2 separate regions of the Homo sapiens genome follow, and region 2 is linked to region 1. Evidence: fine-mapped expression QTL. A gene starts in region 1. The other region holds a variant in brackets. All regions are shown on one strand. Distances are from middle to middle. Region 1 holds the start of GCSAM (germinal center associated signaling and motility). Region 2 overlaps SLC9C1 (solute carrier family 9 member C1).

Region 1 (2,822 bases):
TAATAGTCCACTCCTTTTCAATGATGGTCAGGATTCTGTTGTGTGGATGTAATATAACACAGAGCTTATTTAGCAATTCACTCAATGAAGATCAGTTGGGCTATTTCCAGGGTATTTCGGCTATTATGAGTAAAGCACATATAAAAATTTGTACACACAGTCTTAGAGGACATAAGTTTCACTTGGCTAAATGCCTAGGAGTGAAATTGCCAGGTTGTACAGTAACCCTATGTTCAATTTTATAAGAAATTGCCATACTTCTGAGATGGGAGAGTTCCCTTGACCCCTTCTCGGGACTTGCGACAGGGGTGTGGCCTACTTACTTGGCCACCACCATGCTCAAACTCTCTGTGGGAGCGGGAGCACGCAGGCAAGCGGGTGCCAGGGCTTCGATGAGCACTTTTGGGCTCCAGCCCAACAGCAGCATTTAGGGATGTGTTACAATTCATGCTCTTTTAGCAGTTGCCATCCGTGGACAGCTAAGTGTTAACCCACTCAATGGAGAGTCAGGGTGGCAGCCTTTTACACCCTGCCCTGTTGGTACCCAGGTTCTTGTTCAGCATCCAGGAAGAATCAGGTTGCATGAATGGTTTGAAAGTTGATGGATGTGGACGATTTTATTAAATGGTGGAAGTGGCTCTCAGTGGAAGGGGAGCTGCAAAGGGGATGGTGCAGGAAGAAAGTGACCTTTCCCTGAAGTCTGCTGTCTCTGGCCGGGCTCCTCCCTGAAGTCATGCCACCTGAAGTTAAGCCACATCTCTGACACTCAGTTGCTTCTTCTCCTCTTGATGTTCAGCCGCTTGTCTGTCTGCCAGCTGAGGTCTGGGGTTTATATGGGCACGGGATAGGGGGGCTGGACAGGCTAAAGAGTAACATTTGGGCAGGATAACAGGGATAACTGTTCTCATTTAGGGCTTCGGTTTCAAGGCTTGAGGGTGGGACCTTTGCCAGTGAACCACCCTCTTCTACCCAGTAAAGCCCTGCCTTCTGTCCTTATCACTTCTTTCCAAAAAGGCTGTCATTTTGCATTCTCATCAGCAATGCATGAGACTTCCAGTTGCTTTGCATACCTTGCCATACTTGATATTGTCAGGGTTTTATAGCCATTGTAATAAGTATGTAAAAGTGTTCCATTGTGGATTTGATTTACACTTCCCTAATAACTACAATGTTTAGCATCTTTTAATGTTCATCTGTATAGTTCCTTTGGTGAAATGTCTGTTCAAATATTTTGCCCATTTTGTTACTGGGTGTTTGTTTTCAGATTTGAGAGTTGTTGATACTATATTTTCTACAGGTCTGTGGCTTGACTGTTTTAACCTCCTTCTGACTTTTCTAAGAAGACAACGTGATTTATAAACGTAAATATCTGTAGTGGAAAAACTCCCATGGCCCATCTGTAATTTCAGACCTGGGATTCCCCAGAGGTTCGAAGCTCTCATTGACGGGTAGTTGCTGGTTATGGCCAACAGCCAGGTTGGTTCAGGCACTGACATGTTAGGACATTCTGCACATGCGTGCCTCTAACACTCCTCCCCCAGCCTCTTCCTTCCCTCTGCAGAGACACCCTTCTCCTTTCTGCTGTCTCTGCACGGGTGGCCAGAGCCACACAGCCCTTTCTTTAAGTCAGGAGTTGCCCTGTCAGAGCACAAGGCAAGAAGGAAGTGGTAAAGGGACGGAGGGGAAGCCCTGAGAGGACTGAGAGGATGGGAAATTCTCTGCTGAGAGAAAACAGGTAAGTCTAGACTCCCTGTGGGAGAGCAGAGGAGATGGGACAGGACAATACAGCAAGGAAGAGAAAAAGAAAGCTAGTATACAGTTAGCACACTAAGTTGGGGTAGAAAGTAGTTGGGTAAGGAAACTGCCAAGCCTTCAGTGCCTACTCTGTGCCAGATACCACATTAAATTTCCCATAGGTTTTGCCTTCTCCCAAGAATCATGGTGAGCAGCTGATGGAGAATAGCTGAAAGGTGGAAAGACTTTACCAAGGAAGGTCTATATAATAGGTTACCACCTAAGAAATGAAACAACTTTCTGAAAGCCCGGGAAGGAGATGCTCTCCTGAGCTCCTCATGCTCCACAAGGAGGTCAAAATCACCACCCTCTTTCAGCCACTATTTTAAGTTTGAAATAAACAGCAAGCTTCCTGCCACCTTGAGTCTTCCTTTGATGTGCACTCCCTGCAAGCAGGTAAGCAGAGGTCATCTAGATTAAATAGGCACAGAACTCAGATTTACTTTCTGGACCTCAGCCTCTTTATTTTAAGTAGAAATAATAATACAATATCTACCTTAGAGAGTTCTAGTGTGTATTGTGCTAGCATAGTGCCTGACATAAAGTAGGGTTCAAAATTAGAAGATATTTTCTGCTTTCTTTTTCTGACCATCATCTTCCTTAATATCAAAGCCGTGCCACCAAAATAGTGCCACCACAGACAAGGTAATCTCTAGGGTATAAAGTGGGGTGATCTAGAGAGAGTAAGCGAGCCAGAGGGGGTCTTCACAGGGTTATGTTTGGAATCCCTGGTCTCAGTTCATGCTACTGGAGAGTGGAACACAGGAAAAAATGGTAGCCCACTTTTGACCACTTGCCGAAAAGAGGATTGGTGGTCCTGTGGAATATCTCATGTCCCTTCCTAAGAATCATGTTGTCTGAGACTTCTCTACCCTGGGTTGTCACAGCCCCTTGTCAATCTTCTACTCTAGCATTGTTCTAACAATTATATAAATTACTATTTTTATTACTAGATATGAGATGCTCAAATGTAGTGATTGTTTCTTATTTATCTTTGAATTCCTGGTTCCTGGCATTGTTTCTGGCAT
Region 2 (2,822 bases), 130 kb before region 1:
TTGCTCAATATTATATAACAAACAATTTTCTATTAATTAAAAACTATAGTTAGAAATTGCTTTTTAAATATCATAGGGAAGCCCTCTTTGTAAACATCTTTTTTTCTCAAATCATTTTTGTAGTTTCTTTTTCCACTGTTAAGAGGTAGAAAAAGTCTGTTTATGTAGCTGAAAAGGAGATAGCATAGAGTGAGAAAAACCACCATAACTAGAGTCTCATAGGTCTTTAATCTCCATTACTCAAATGATTAACATTCTACTTCCATCTAGTTGAATTGCTGAAGTCAAGGCATCTAGTGCCAAGTAAAATAAAATTATTTCCCAAATTATCAGATAAAATTAGTGTAAAACATAGGAATGATATATGACTGAAGGAAAAAAAAATCTGGCCAATATTGGACCAATTCAGCAAGATTAAAATCTATAAACAAAAAGAAACAGAGAACATTTTCTCACTTCTTATTCATTAAATTTGTTTTTATTTGGGGTGGGGATTCAGAATTTATGTACAACACATCTCGAACTTTTCTTTTTCCTCCTGAAGGAGCACCACTCAAGGATGATGTAAATTTACTATGCTACTCACCTAGTAGAAAGAAAGAAAGAATAATACCATTCTCTTGGCATGTCTCTCTATGGAATACCTGCTGCCTTTCTTTGGTGTCATGTCAACAGTGTGTGAAAGATGTCTCATTTGTTTGAGAGTTAGGAATTCTACAGGGAGTAGATTAGAATAGAGTAGCATGAAATGGAAAGAAACTCATATGAAAGAATAACTTTGTAAAAATTGTTTTGTCTTTTAGATTTCTGACCCTTCTTTTAATAAGCCCTGTTTTGTCTCGAGTTGGTCATGAGTTCAGTTGGCGCTGGATATTCATAATGGTCTGTAGTGAAATGAAGGGGATGCCTAATATAAACATGGCCCTTCTGCTTGCCTACTCTGATCTTTATTTTGGATCTGACAAAGAAAAATCTCAAGTAAAGAAAGCTGTATTTTCTTATCTGAATATTGTATAAAACTATTACTGTGTATTTAAAATATATGTTTTTTTGTAGTGAGGTAGCTCAACTTCACTTGGGATGTAGGAGTGATTTAGCTATGATGGCAAGATCGGGGAGAGGAGGAACAACTGGCAACTTTCCTTCTCCCCTGAAATAGGTTTATTACAAAGATCAAAGTAATTAAAACTTATCAATCATTTAAAATAGTACCTGGCATAAAAGGTGCACTCAATAATGTTTTAATTATTTATTGCACTCAAGAGAAGTGAAAACTTTCTTATGATTGGCCCTATTACCTTCTGTAACTTTCTGA[G/T]GCTCATTTAGTAATGCTATGAGCCAAAACATTTTAATTGTCAGGTAAAACACTCTAAACAGTACCCTCAAACTCTGCTTAGCAGAAAATACAGGGCATAACTCTCCTTCTACCATGTGTCTGGGCAAGATAATTACAAGGATCTCTGTAAGAAAATTTCTGTGCAGATATCACAGAGCATCTGATGCTTTTATCATCTGGGTTTTTTTTTTTAACAAAAATTCCAAATGTAAAAAGAGAAGTGGCAAGATAATCATTATGTATCTACTTAAATAATACTCAGTCCAAATATTTAAAAAACTAATCTTTAAACTGCCTTTAAAATCAAAATTATCTGATATTGCATGACCTCTCCCTTCTATCTATTTCTACAAGCCCAAATATTCAAGATCAGTGTCATCACCATACACCTGATCAGTGTGACGGCTAACCTTGTGCACAGATCTAGGTTCTGAAATTTTCAGCTTAGATGCTATTTGCTGCGTGGACATCAGCAAGTTTTTAATTTCCACCTCACCTCAAGTATCAGTTTCCTCACTCCAAAACAGACTTAATAGTATCAATGGTTTGCTGGTAAATATTTAACAAGTAACTTAAGTGTTGAGGTGAGAGGAAGTCCTAATTTGTAGTATTTGCCCATTTCTGTTGTGTAATCACTTCCACCAACAGAACATCAGTCAGCTCATAAACTTCCTGAAATTGAACGATTAGCTCTCATGAGCTAGTAAGAGCCAGCCTAGCACACTACTTTCACAAAGCATTATTATGAGAAACAAAAAATGTACATAAAACACTTGGCACATTGTTTAGCATATAGCAATTGTACAATAAATACAAGCTCTGATGATGAAATTATAAGTGATGATATACTTTGCCGTAGTGTTTTAAAATAAAATTTTAGTAAGTAAAATCATTTAGTAAATATCCTCACTAGAAGTAACTCCTTGAGAAGAAAGTAGAACTCCTTTTCTCAATTTAATCTAGCTGAACCCTACAGTTAATACTTACCCAGAGGCATTATAGTAAAGGGTTAAAAATACTAACATCAAAGACATATTGCCTTTTTAATTCTGTCTCTACTACTCATAAGTTATGTTATATTGGGAAAGTCACAGTGCCCTAGATTCCCATCTGTGTAATTGTACAGTATTGGTAATTACCTCACAAAATTGCAGTGAAGATTAAATAAGCCTCGTATATTGTATTATTAGCCTGTTATATGTGTTAGCTCTTATTAATTTTAAACTATTTAACTAATTGAGTGGTCTTTTACCTAGAATGCAATGCACTTTAGATTGATTTAGGAACTTTTTGAAAAATATCAATGTCTGTGGAATTCTAGTCTTTACTATGATGAATAGTGGATATCAGACTTACTTTCCATAGTAAACAACTACAAAAATGTTTAAAATATATGAAGCAACTGATTTGGGGTATTGGATAAGGGACATTGCCTGGTTAGATCCTTCAGAGAAATGGAACACATAAGGAGAGTTCACATTCACTC

What was found.
Region 2: its variant is fine-mapped to the expression of GCSAM in nasal epithelium (TOPMed, PIP 0.98).

The regions. Positions count from the first base shown.
Region 1 is chr3:112,132,005-112,134,826 of GRCh38, reverse strand. It overlaps GCSAM (germinal center associated signaling and motility), which reads left to right and starts at 1,579. Exons shown (of 6, transcript NM_152785.5): 1 at 1,579-1,735. The coding sequence starts at 1,707. TBILA (TGF-beta induced lncRNA) reads right to left here and starts at 1,404. Exons shown (of 1, transcript NR_157393.1): 1 at 1-1,404. It also overlaps a transcript of C3orf52 not described here. RefSeq lists enhancers at 1,254-1,433, 1,914-1,973.
Region 2 is chr3:112,261,080-112,263,901 of GRCh38, reverse strand. It overlaps SLC9C1 (solute carrier family 9 member C1), which reads left to right. Exons shown (of 29, transcript NM_183061.3): 10 at 804-978. Among named protein-coding and RNA genes, the nearest start is that of SLC9C1, 32 kb to the left of the region's middle. The variant G/T (reference allele first, on the strand shown) is at 1,316.